Linked DNA regions of Homo sapiens. The protein of the gene in region 2 purifies or fractionates together with the protein of the main gene of each other region. This does not show direct contact. Each region holds a gene or a part of one and is shown on either strand. Other genes may lie near its edges.

Region 1 (4,953 bases), on a different chromosome or scaffold from region 2:
GAAGGTTTAAGGAAGTTGGAGACAGAAGGTAAGACAAAGACTGCGCCAGGAAAGGAAGGGCCAGACAGACAGACTTGAGGTAGAAAACAGACCTGCTGCTGCAGTGAAAGCCCCATGTTGCTGATATCCAACATTTTTCCAAGCTCCATTCCAGACCTTTTGCAACCTTCTTGCCCCTGTCCTGCACCTCACCACCCTACTTCCTTTCCAGTCACTCTGTTTGATCCTGGAACCCCAGCTAAGTGCTCTGAGGTCAGGGATTGGCACCAGAGGCGGTCATGGTTTGATGGGGCCACACGTGCCCACATGCAGTGGTGAATCAGAGAGCGACAGCCAGGGAGTGCCTGTGCAGAGGGGTTTCAGCGTGGGCCATGGTGTTTTGTGGGTGGGCTCAGTGCAGGGGCTGGGGGTGTCAGTAAGTGCCAGGGTGTCAGGAGTGAACCAGTGCTCCGTGGTGGCGATAGAGGTGCTCTCTGGAGGGCAGGAAAACAGCATGGAGACCAAGTTCAGAATTTATTAAGCAGCAAAGGAGGGTGGAAGGGGATAGGTAAAGGATGAAGCCAGTGCCAGAGTGGGTGGTGGGCATGATGGGGGCTCTCCCTAGGCTGCTCCCAGCCTGGCTGTGCAATGTTGGCAATTTCTGCTCCTCCTGCCTGCTCCCCTCCCCATAGAGAGAATGGAAAGGAGAGGAGAGAAGAGAGCTGAGGTGGCCACGCTGGCGTGGGGCTCAGAGGGAGGTGATGTCATTGAGTGCGTTGTCCAGTTCCTCGCTAATGGCCTTGTACTTCATCTTCTGGGCATAGACTTCATCTGGGGGGGGTCCAGGGAGGGGACCAGGTGGGAGTGTGGGAAAGGGAGTGGAGGGAAAGAGGAAAGGAAGGAGAGAGAGCAATGGAAAGAAAAACAGAATCAGAGGTACACAAAGACAGAGTGAGAGAGGGAGGCCAGGGAACAGGCTGGACAGCTGTCAGGAACTCCTTCTCCCCATCTCTACCCCATCTCTTTTCTGTCCTTCTCTGTACCCCAAATTGGCTCTACCCATGGCAGCTCCTGCCTCTCCAGGGAGCTGTGTGTACAATGCTCTCGACAAGCAGGAGTGCTTGCTTAGAGGGGAGAGGGAGGGTGCTGGAGCCAGAAAGGGCAAACCTCCTAAAGCTGGAGGTAAAATTGGAGCTTGCCTGAGAAGGCTGGAAGCGAGAGAAGTGGGAAAGTGAAAGGGTTATCACAGAATAAAAAGGAAAGGCAACTTTAGCCACATCATCATTAACAATAGAAATAGCCACAGACTCACAAATATCTGGATGTTTGCTTTTGTCAAATCTAGCTTAAAATAGTGTTTTCTATTAGTGCTGTCATGCAGACCTAGATGTTCAGTCCAACAGCTCTCTAGTTAATAAGCCAGTCTCTGCACTAGAACTCTACTGCGTTACACTCGGGGACGGAATTGTCTATAAGGGTGCCACTCAGAGTGTGGCATGAGGACCAGCAGCATTGGCAGTACCAGAGAACTAGCTAGAAATGTAAATCCTCCAGCCCAAAGTCAGCAATCTCTTTGGGGCAGAGTCAAGGAATCTGTTTTTAAAACTCTCCCAGTGATTCTCATGCATGCTGAAGTTTGAGAAGCACTGGAGTTGTTGCGCCGTGGGCAGCTACAATTACTTGAATTGTAGACATGGCCCACAGAGTTGGGGAGTTGGTAGGGTCCTAGGTGGCCCAACCCTAGTTTATTGGTGGCAAATAAAATGGGATGAGAAGGTACAGGACAGACTGATAATCACGGCAGGTGTGGACCTACTTATAAAGGCTTCTTTTACCTTCTAGGTCATCGATGGTTTTCTCCAACTTTGCCACAGACCTCTCGGCAAACTCTGCTCGGGTCTCAGCCTGGGGGTAAAGGCAGGATGGGAGAAATGGCAAAGAATTAGGCCCTCCCACAGACTACTGCCTAAGTCAAGCTTCTTGTCCATCCCAACCCTCAAGTGTCCTGCCACAGGCCGTCTCTGGCAAGGATTAGGGTGGCTTGAGGGGAGACTGGGAACTGGAAGAGGACTCTCACCTCCTTCAGCTTCTCCTCCAACAGTTTGATCTCCTCTTCATATTTATCTTCTTTGGTGGAATACTTTTGGGGACACACACACGCCATCAGTACAGCGCTACCACAGATCCTTCATTTCTCCATTGTACCCCGTAGGCTCCTGGTCATCTTGCCTCCGTTGAACACCCAGCCCCTCCCTGCCTTGGGCCCCTCACCTCCCTCCCCTGTGGGACCCCATCCTCACTGCCCCTCTGCTCCCCTCTACCTTGTCCGCCTGGGCCTCCAGGGATTTCAAGTTGTTGGTAACAATTTTCAGCTCCTCCTCTAGGTCCCCACATTTACTGCAGGGGGTGTGTGGCGGGGGGGGCAGGGTGTGAGGGCACAGCGAAGCCAGACAGTGGAGATGGCACAGCAGGGGACGGGTGGAGGAGAGAAGAGAAGAGCAAAGTTGTGAGAGTGACAGCAGGCAGGGCTCAGAAGCCCCAGGCCCTTCCTGATCCCCAGCAGCTGAGAAAGAGCAGCCTGCGGTGCTGAGACGGAGGGAAGGTGAGCTGAGAGAAGGCGCCATTGCCCAGAAAGGTTCAGAGGGGTCACTACCTCCTCCTCTGAGGCCATCAGGGACTTGAGGGCCTGGTCCATGGTTCGAAGTTCCTCCTCCAGCTGTCTGGCTCGGCTGGGGGCAGCGGGCAGGGGTCAGAGAACAGGGCCTGTCCCTACAGCCCCAAGCCTAGGATGCTACCTTCCCACTGTGTGGAAGGCCCCAGGGCCAATGGGCTCACTTGTCACCCCCGGGTATCTTTACCTCTCGGCCACCTCAGCCCTCTCCTCCGAGCGCTCCAGCTCTCCTTCCAGGATCACCAGCTTCCTGGCCACCTGTGGGGAGTGAGAAAGAGAGGGTAGATCAGTGGAGAAGGACTGGGCATGTTGCAGGCTGGGCAGCGAGCAGGCAGAGGGGCAAGGCTGTCACCTCTTCATATTTGCGGTCTGAATCCTCAGCGATGTGCTTGGCCTCCTTCAGCTGCATCTCCTGCAGTTCCATCTTCTCCTCATCCTTCATGGCCCGGTTTTCGATGACCTTCATTCCTCTGAAAGGCAGGGAGAGGGTGAGCGTAGGGTCAGGACCAGCAGAGACAGGCTCCCTTCTCCCTCCCGGACCATCCTCCCCGAGGCCCCTGACCACCTCTCGCTCTCATCAGCCGCCTTCTCGGCCTCCTCCAGCTTCTGCAGGGCTGTAGCCAGGCGCTCCTGGGCCCGGTCCAGCTCCTCCTCAACCAGCTGAATGCGGCGGTTCAGGGAGGCCACATCTGCCTCAGCCTGTGGGTCAGAGGTCAGGGGTCAAAAAGGCCTTGTTAGCCTTGGATAAGGATCAGAGAGGCTCCAGAGGATGGCGAGATTCTTCTCAGAAAGAACTGAGGCTTCCTGGTTTCTAGACATTCTATGTGATTTTTCCCCAACCAATCATCTTCTGCCCAGACTGTGCTCCAGTAAAAAATGTGCATTCAGGCCGGGCATGGTGGCTCACGCCTGTAATCCCCGCACTCTGGGAGGCCGAGGCGGGTGGATCACCTGAGGTGAGGAGTTTGAGAGCAGCCTGGCCAACATGGTGAAACTCTGTCTCTATTAAAAATAAAAAATTAGCCAGGCATGGTGGCGCATGCCTGTAATCCCAGCTACTTGGGAGGCTGAGGCACAAGAATCACTTGAACCCAGGAGGCGGAGGTTGCAGTGAGCTGAGGTCGTGCCACTGCACTCCAGCCTGGGTAAAAAGAACGAAACTCCATCTCAAAAAAACAAAAAAATACATGCATTCCTTGCTTGACAAGCTCCGCTCCCCTGCTGCAGGGCCTCTCCTGCACTGTGCACAGTTAGTCTCCCAAAGGTCACCTGCACACAAGTCCTCCTGTTCCCTGTGGGAGCACTTCAAGTGCTGGGGCCAGGTCTGATGCAGCTCTGATTCCTACACAGCAAAGCCTGGCCCAGGTAAGGGGATGGGAGGAGAATCAGGCCAACCAGACATCACTGCTGCTAAGAATAGCCCGTCACAGAATCAAGCTCAGTGATACTGGGCATGGTGGTGCATGCCTGTCATCCCAGCTACTCCGAAGGCTAAGGCGGGAGTTCAGCTTGACCCCAGGAGCCCTGCCTGGGAAACATAGCAAGATCCCATCTCAAAAAAAAAAAAAAAAAAAAGTATCAAGTTCAGTGATGTCATCTGTCATCAGCTGTAAGGCAGACTCCCAGCAAGAAGCCCAAGAGGCAGGCCTATAAGGAATACCCATGGCTGTAGCAAGGGGCTCCCTGCCAAGGCCAGCAGAGAGCTGGGGGCAATGCAGGGGCAGTGTGAGGGATGTCTACTCAGCCCCTGGGCTTGCAGTAGGAGGCAAAACCATGGAGGTTTTGGAAAAAATCCATAAAAACTGGTCAAACACTGAGAAAAAGGGCAGAGCAAGGCGAGCGCCAGTAAAGGAAAATGAGAGGAGCAGGGCAGCCACGTGTTAAGAGCATCGGCTCTGAGTCAGATTGTCTTTGAGCCACGGCTCAGCCACTCAACACCTGTGTAACTGTGGGCAACTTATTTAGCCTCTCTAAGCTTCAGTTTCCTCCTTCACAAGTTGGAGTTAACAATAACAGTTCCTCCTTCTTAAGGCTGTTCTGAGATAATCCACTGCTTTTAATACTCAGTTAATCAACAGGACCTTCGGTGAGACTCATAAAACTAAACAGGTTCTCTTACTCCATGCTAGATCCACTGAATTGGGATGTGTAGGGCGGGGGCTTGGGAATCTTCTCTTTTTTTTTTAAAGCCCCCGAGTGATTCTGATGATAAGCCAAGTTTGGGAAATTGTAAAATAACATGCAGAAAGCACTGAGTACATTGCCTGCACAGGGTCCACATTCCATAAATATTAGGTTATCCC
Region 2 (8,301 bases):
CAAGGAGCCTAGTAAGTTCTTCATTATGGTAAAAACACGATGAAAAGTGATATTTTAGAAAAACCGGCCAGGTGTGGTGGCTCACGACTGTAATCTCAGCACTTTGGGAGGCTGAAGTGAGCTGATCACCTGAAGTCGGGAGTTCGAGACCAGCCTGACCAACATGGAGAAACCCTGTCTATAGTAAAAATACAGAATTAGCTGGGTGTGGTGGCACATGCCTGTAATCCCAGCTACCTGGGAGGCTGAGGCAGGAGAATCGCTTGAACCTGGGAGGCGGAGGTTGCAGTGAGCCGAAATCGCGCTATTGCACTCCAGCCTGGGAAACAAGAGTGAAACTCCATCTCAAAAAAAGAAAAAGAAAAACCACTCTTCAGGTTGTATGCAGGATGTAAATAATTTAGTGGAAAGCAACTCATGAGATTTGCGTTGTTCCAGAAACAATCTGTACTCTGGCATTATGAATGGAGAGGAGAAAAATAAATATTATGAAGAAAATACCTTGCTTGAGTGATAATTTTATATGAAGTATAAATGAGGAGTGAGTTAAAATAACTCATGGGTTTTAAACATGGATGTCTGGGAAAATGGTTGACCAAAGTGGGAACTATGGGAGGCCAGAGTGGTTTAGGACAGAAGTTATTAATTTGGTAATGGCCAAGCTGAGTTTATGGTGACAGCCCTATGAGGGTGTCCTAAAGGTCACTGAACTAGATCAGGGCTAGAGTTCTAAGTGCAAAGTCACAGATATGAAAGTAAATGAGCTCAACAGAGCCAGTACACACAAGCTCAGAAGGCCAGTGACTGTGCCTGTAGTGAGTGGGAGGAAGAGAAATTAATGAATGGAATGGAGAAGGATTTGACTGGAGAAGTAGGCAGATAGCCAAGTTTGTATTATAGAGTCTAGAAGAGAAAGTTTAATATAATCCATCAAAAGCTACCAAGAGGCCAAGGAGGAGGAGGTCACTTGTAACTCTCAAGAAAGTAGTTTTAACTGAGTGCTTGGAGAAAAGCTAGATTTTTGTGGAGTTAAAGAGTGAGTACATTATGAGGAAAGGGAGGTGAGTACAGACCAACCATCTAAAAAATCTGGTAATGAAAAAGAGAAGCAACGGCTGGAAAGGGGAATAGGACCAAAGAGCAGCCTGCATATAGTTGAGCACAGATGAAAGAAGCCAGTAAGAATGGAAGTGAAAGATTGACAATAAGGGCAGTTAATTCTTTTTGAAGTATACAGTAGGCTGGGCGCAGTGGCTCACGCCTGTAATCCCAGCACTTTGGGAGCTGAGGTGGGCGGATCACCTGAGGTCAGGAGTTTGAGACCAGCCTGGCCAACATGGCAAAACTGTGTCTCTACTAAAAATACAAAAATTAGCCAGGCATGGTGGCGGGTGCCTGTAATCTCAGCTACTTGGGAGGCAGGCAGGAGAACTGTTTGAACCCTGGAGGTAGAGGTTACAGCGAGCTGAGATTGCACCACTGCATTCCAGCCTGGTGGATATAAAAATAATAATAAATAAACAAACAAATAAATAAAATATAGAGTAGACTCTCTTTAGATTGTAAATTCCTTGAGGACAGGAATCTTGTCTTATTCATATTTATGTCCCTTTCTATAGCACCTAGCACAGTGACTAGTATAGTATAATGCACATAATAGATAAAAAATAGAAACAATTGAATTGAATTGGCCTCCCTGGTATGGTCAGGGATAGCTGAAAGGCACAGAAGGACTCCTTACAGTGATGGGGAAGGATGGATCTTTCTCTAAGCCCAAAGGAAAGGAAGACAGAGGTTGTTGTAAAGAGGTGGCAGTCTTTCTGGAGGGGGACAGAGAAGTGGTAGGAGGAATGACACCAGCCTACTGTGTGGGGATGTCGGTATTTTAGCAGAGTCCAGATCTGAACGATGCCGTGTCCAGTTTGCGAAGTCCTATTCCCCTCCTCCTGTCGTGTGCCTTTGTTCAGGTGGGGATGTATTTCATGTAGAAGGTAAGAGTGCAGCCACTGGCTTTGGGGGAGTCTGTGAAATAATATTTTTTAACTTCCCACACTAAACCGAAGTAATTCTTACCAGTATCTCTAGTTAGTGTTTCCAGCCTGGTCAATTATCAGCCACTGAAGGAAGAGATTTAGGCTCATCCCTATAATCCCAGCACTTTGGGATGGTGACGTGGGAGGATCGCTTGAGCCCAGGAGTTCCAGACCAGGCTGAGCAACATAGTTTAAGTCCAGGCTGAGCAACAGACCTTGTCTCTACAAAAAAATTAAAAATAAATAAATAAGAACTCCTCTACAAGACGTTAAAAAAATTAAAAATAAAAATTAGTTGGGTGTGGTAGCACAGGCCTGCAGTCCCAGCTATTGGGGGGGATGGGGTGGAAGGATCCCTTAAGCCCAAGAATTGGAGGCTGCAGTGAGCCATGATCTGGCCACTGTACTGTTGCCACTGGGCAACACAGTGAGACTGTCTCAAAAAATAACAAGTAAAATGAAAGAAGAGGGATCACATTTAGAAAAATCTTCTTATTCAGTCTTAAAGAAGTTTAGGAGATGCTGAGGCAGACTTTTGTGATGAGTCATTACTTTTTCTGAACTAAGAGGACTTCAGGATCTCCTAGAGCAGATAGATGATGGGGTTGGGGGAATACTTCTCCAAGCTTCCAAAATGTCTGAACAATCAAAGCTAGTTCCAGCCTGGCCACGTTTCAAGTCATGGCGAATGCCAGAGGGCAAAGTGGGTGGGTCTTACAACCTGGTAGAGTCAAGAGGCAAAGTTCAGAGGCAGAACGGATGGCGGTTCTCTGATGTATGGCAGGGCGGTGGGAGAGAAGGGAAGAGAAAGCCGTATTATAGGAAAAGAATTTTTAAATTGGGATGCTAAATAACCATTGATCATAGAGAGATTCAGCAGGAGGTGAAAGGACTGTGGAGGAGAGGGGTACACACACATCTTTCCCAGGAGCTATCACAGAGCAATCCCAGCTCAGAATATCTGGGGAGTTTCCATAGAGTGTGGGGGGCATGAAGGGGTTTCTCGGGTCTCCTGACTCCTTTTATTTTCTTTCTTTCTCTGCTTTTTTAGGTGGAAGAAGGCTGCTATGACTCTTTGGATGGGAGTCTGGCAAGAGGAAATTGGAAGATAAAATAAATAATAAGTGAAATAATCTGGTTACCATCTACTCCTTCATGAGTCTGTTCTAAAGTCACAACTAAAGAGAGCGCCAGGATTTAGAGGCAGCAAGCGTAGATTGGAAGGGGAGGTGGGTGACAATTGAATTAGAGGGCATTATGGACTGAATAAACCTGCAGTTTGGAGAAGACTGGAGAAGGGCACCCACAGACAACAGGTTTATTCACAGTCCATATTGGTAATTCTCTTGTTTTATTTTATTAAGTATGGTGTTGAAACAGTGTGCTTGGGGAAACGAGGTTGAGGTTTTAGAATCTTTTTTTCTTTTTATAAGAATAAGCACATTGTTAAAACATAAGGTAAAATATCAAAAACTACTTAGAATAGACTTAAAATATTCACACCTACCCACCCCTACCCACACCTCTGTCCAACAATGTGCCTTTTGCAGTTGGTAATTATGGCAGGGACAAACTCACTTAAATTTTTTTTTAATTCGCTATCCTCGGGACCCTAATTAGAATTGGGCTGCCCCCTTGCGGTCTCTCCGACGTCCTATCTTCAACCAGCTCACAGTCCTTGGGCCCTGCTCTCCTCTCCATTGTACTCTCAAAATGCAAGGCGCAACGACAATAGTAACGTCCCAGTTACTTCTGAGACTCTCTAAACTCTGGACTTGCCTCCCTCCCCTCCTTCAAAGTCTTTCGAATCTTCTCCAGCGGACAAATGAAGGGACTGAAGCTGGACAAAACCATAACCTAGGAGATCAGGGACCTACCCCATTCTGTTCCCCGTGCTTGGAATCAGATAATTTAGGACGCCGGGCCCGAGAAGCCTGGATAAAAAAGTCAGGAAAAACTGAGTTTCGTTTTGACCTCTAGCGTCGTGGCGGGCTGGCATCTGAGCTGGTAACGTGCGTGGTAGGTTATGTAAGAAAAGGGATGGAGGAGCCGCCCCAGCGGGAGCCAGAAAGGACGCGGTGTTCTCGGTTGCAATCCCCACCCTCCTCACCCAGCAGGGCAGGAGGCACCCAACTTGGAGGAGAAAGGGGTGGGGGAGGTGAAACAGAGACCGGAGAGTCACGAGGGCTGGGCCGCCGAGAGCAGGAGAATATACCGTGTCACACACCTCCATTCTCTCACACACGTTGCAGACACAAATCACTGACGGTTTCCACGTGCTGCGCTCGTGAGCGGAGGTGTTCAAAGAGGGGGCAGATGAGTTACTTCCCGAGACGGAACCGGGGGTCCCACGTCCGCCGCCTTCAGTAGCACAACCAATCTCTGAACACTCAAACCGCGCATCTCTGGCGCATCACCATCCTATTTAAGGCCACGGGCTCCGCCCTTTTCCTCCCCTCCCTTCTTTTCCACTCTTTTTCCATCCTCCTCCTTTTCTCATCACCGGGTCCTCTCCAGCAGCCGCATGTAGGGGAGGAGCACGGAATGCTTCCCTTACAGCCAATCATCACCTGGCTGCCTCTCTACTGGCTGAGCCCCTTTGTACTGTAGCAAATGGGCTATGGACTTCAGTAACTAGAGTCACGTGTTACCGGCGACACAACCAATGAGGGCGCGAGATCTGTGTAAGCAGGGGGAGGCACGTGCCGGGCCGCACGTGTCTGGGAGGGGGGGGAAGGGGCGGGGCCCACTGAGAGAGGCGGAGGTGGGTAGATAGACCCGGAGAGACGGCGAAGGAGCTGGAAACCGAGCCAGGGCTGAGCCGGCTGACAACAGGTAAGGAGATTCGGAGGACAAAGCGAGCTGTTAGGGAGTATTTGGGAGTGGATTTGGGGGCTGAATGCAGATCTTGGTATTGGGAGGGTTTGCATCACGTGGCAGGTGCGAGCCCAGAGAGACCGGCGCAGGGATCCTGATCTTGAAAGATTGGGAGAGGGCAGGAGGCCAGTCTCTATGGGGGCGGTTCCCGTAGGATCACCAGGTGGGTTCGCGTGCCCAGATTGACTGCTTGTGGGTGGCATGGCCTCAGGTGGAGAGGCTTGCTGCGGACTCAGGCTGGCGAATAGCCCTGGCGAACAACGGGCGGAGGGGAAGGTGTCTTTCAAGTCGGTATTTACTCTGAACTGAGGGAAGAAAAGAACGGAGGCCGCGTCAGACCGAGAGCTGCTCTGCGGCGGCCAGAGAGGGAATCCCAAGCTCTTAATGGGCGGGGGTGGGGGTAGAAATGTCTTTTTCTATTGTGTTTGAGACCGGTAATATTGGGGAGGGGGAGAACAAGTATTATCCCACGCAGTACACCCCAATCTCCCAGTTCATTTCCTAATCCTTAAACTCTGGTTTCAAACTCCCTCGCTTTGCTCTTCAGTTGCAGGTTCCGATCTTTGGGTACTCCAGGAGCTGTTCTATAGCCCCTGCTTCTGGACCTATGGATTCTCCATCTAGCGTTTCTTCCTATTCCTCCTACTCTCTCTCTTCGTCTTTTCCCACCTCCCCAGTGAACAGTGACTTTGGCTTCCCCTCTGATAGTGAGAGGGAGGACAAGGGGGCCCATGGGCCCAGGCCAGACACTGTTGGGCAGAGGGGAGGTTCACGGCCCAGCCCGGGTCCTATCCGCTGCAGGCATCGATCGAAGGTTTCCGGTAACCAGCATACACCATCTCATCCGAAACAGCGGGGTTCGGCTTCTCCTATGGCAGGATCTGGGGCGAAAAGATCAAGAGATGGTGAACTGGAGACCAGTCTAAACACCCAAGGTTGTACCACAGAGGGAGACCTGCTGTTTGCCCAGAAGGTAAGAGAAAGCAGGTGAAAGGAGATTCTCCTGGAGTGCCTTAGCACCCAGCTGGTTGATAAGGACCCTGTGAGGACAGTATTGACTCCCAGATTTGGAGGTGAAGGAAGAGCCACTGCTGGTGTGGGCAGTTTTTTGTCTTCTTACAGCCTTTGTCCTATTTTCCTACAGTGTAAAGAACTCCAAGGATTTATACCTCCTCTCACAGACCTACTCAATGGGCTGAAGATGGGTCGTTTTGAGAGAGGTAATCTTATTGTTGCATTCATTTGGGCTAGGTTCATTTCTCTTTCTCTTTCCCTCTTTTGACGTGTATTTCTCTGAAGTTCTTGTTTGGGGCCTATATTACTCCTTTTTTGCTACTATGACTTTATTATTATTATTATTATTATTATTATTTTGAGACGGAGTTTTGCTCTTGTTGCCCAGGCTGGAGTGCAATGGCGCGATCTCGGCTCACTGCAACTTCCACCTCCTGGGTTCAAGCGATTCTCCTGCCTCAGCCTCCCCAGTCGCTGGGATTACAGGCGCCCACCACCATGCCCAGCTAATTTTTGTTATTTTTAGTAGAGATGGGGTTTCGCTATGTTGGCCAGGCTGGTCTCAAACTCCTGACCTCAGGTGATCCACCCACCTCAGCCTCCCAAAGTGCTGGGATTACAGGCGTAAGCCACCTTGCCTGGCCCGACTTAATTTTTTTAGATCAATCAATTTTAACCCCCTTCTGTTCTTCCTTTACCTGACTACATGCTTGAATCTCAATCCTTAATCTCTCTCTGTCCCTGTCCCCAGGATTAAGCAGTTTTCAGCAGAGTGTGGCAATGGACAGGATCCAGCGTATTGTAGGTGTTTTGCAGAAGCCACAGATGGGGTAAGTCCCGCTGGTTCTTTGCTTGGGTCTTCATAAAAAGGAGATTTCTCCAATCCTGTTGCTGGTTTTTTAAAGCAACGTCATTTTCACAGGGAACGTTACCTAGGAACCTTGCTACAGGTAGAAGGGATGTTAAAGACTTGGTTTCCACAAATAGCTGCCCAGAAGTCATCATTGGGTGGTGGCAAGCATCAGCTGACCAAGGTAAGAACTTAAGAACACGAGGAAGAGGTGGGAAAATAGCCAAGAAAATGAAATGTGCATGCAGAAATGGCCCCTTTTGCCATTTTCTTTTGAGTCTTTTCTTCAAGTTTCTTTTCAGGGAAGGAAATTCCTAAACTTTCTGCATTGTCTTGATTCCTACATGTTTTGTTGTTGTTGTTGTTGTTGTTGTTTTGTTTGAATCACTGGGAGGAACTCCATGAAGTTTAATCCTATCCCTCATGCCACAGCTTATCTGCTTTCTGCGTAGATACAAAAGGCTTTTTACCTGGCCAAATGATTCATGCGGGAATACACCTCAGCTTCTCTCTGCAAACTCTTTTTTCCCTACTGCCCCCAAACCCTTCCCTTCTCCTTCTTTTCATTTCTGCCCACGTATCCTTGTGCCAAACCCTTTGACAGTTTTTGAGTCTACACTGGGTTTCAAGGACTGGTCATAAGAGGTACCTCACTGGAAGTAGGGGAGGGGGGCACCAATAGCAGCAGTGTTGATAGATTCTTAGACCTGGTATAGAAGTGACCTATTTTCAGCCGGGAGCGGTGGCTCACACCTGTAATCCCAGCACTTTGAGAGGCCAAGGCGGGTGGATCATGAGGTCAGGAGTTCGAGACCAGCCTGGCCAAGATGGTGAAACCCCGTCTTTACTAAAAATACAAAAATTTGCCAGGCATGGTGGCGCACGCCTGTAGTCTCAGCTACTCGGGAGGCTGAGGCAGGAGAATTGCTCGAACCCGGGAGGCAGAGGTTGCGGTGAGCCGAGATCGTGCCATTGCACTCCAGCCTGGGAGACAAGAGCGAAACTCCATCTAAAAAAAAAAAAAAGTGACCTATTTTCTGTCCTCAAATAATAGGGTATGTAGAGGGCATTCAAATGACGGAGAAGGAGAGTCTCCTGTAGATAATCACCAGTCCTAATTTTCAATCAGCCATGGTTATTATTGCTGTGACTAATCTATTAAAAAATAAGTAGGCCAGGCACAGTGGCTCACTGTAATCTTAGCACTTTGGGAGGCCAAAGCAGGAGGATTGCTTGAGCCCAGGAGTTTGAGACCAGCCTGGGCAACATGGTGAAGGCTGCTATCTACAAAAAATACAAAAAGTAGGTGGGCATGGTGGCGTGCACCTGTAGTCCCAGCTGAGGCTGGGTGGGAGGCTGAGGTGGGAGGATCTCTTGAGCTTGGGAGGTCGAGGCTGCAGTAAGCCATGATTGTGCCAGCCTCGTTGACAGAGTGAGACCCTGTCTCAAATATAAAATTTTAAAAAAACAGTAGGAGGATCTTGCCTGAATATTAATTTACACTTCTTAAAGAACTCAAGATAGAAT

Evidence for each region. The genes of interacting proteins can lie anywhere in the genome.
Region 1: the proteins of CIART (region 2) and TPM2 purify together in Homo sapiens (affinity purification with mass spectrometry; 2 studies listed by BioGRID and IntAct, with this or other methods). This does not show direct contact.

Annotation. Positions count from the first base shown.
Region 1 is NC_000009.12:35,682,432-35,687,384, forward strand, and holds the end of TPM2 (tropomyosin beta chain), read right to left. Parts: intron 3,350-4,953; coding exon 3,216-3,349; intron 3,121-3,215; coding exon 3,003-3,120; intron 2,909-3,002; coding exon 2,838-2,908; intron 2,709-2,837; coding exon of another isoform or gene 2,377-2,708; coding exon 2,301-2,376; intron 2,120-2,300; coding exon 2,057-2,119; intron 1,885-2,056; coding exon 1,815-1,884; intron 811-1,814; coding exon 728-810; 3' UTR 501-727; downstream 1-500. UniProt on the Homo sapiens protein: Binds to actin filaments in muscle and non-muscle cells. Plays a central role, in association with the troponin complex, in the calcium dependent regulation of vertebrate striated muscle contraction.
Region 2 is NC_000001.11:150,277,751-150,286,051, forward strand, and holds the start of CIART (circadian-associated transcriptional repressor), read left to right. Parts: upstream 1-4,803; 5' UTR 4,804-5,517; coding exon 5,518-5,883; intron 5,884-6,054; coding exon 6,055-6,130; intron 6,131-6,675; coding exon 6,676-6,754; intron 6,755-6,846; coding exon 6,847-6,958; intron 6,959-8,301. Other genes in the region: uncharacterized protein LOC124904414, read right to left, coding at 3,911-4,266; uncharacterized protein C1orf54 isoform a precursor, read left to right, coding at 1,890-1,988. UniProt on the Homo sapiens protein: Transcriptional repressor which forms a negative regulatory component of the circadian clock and acts independently of the circadian transcriptional repressors: CRY1, CRY2 and BHLHE41.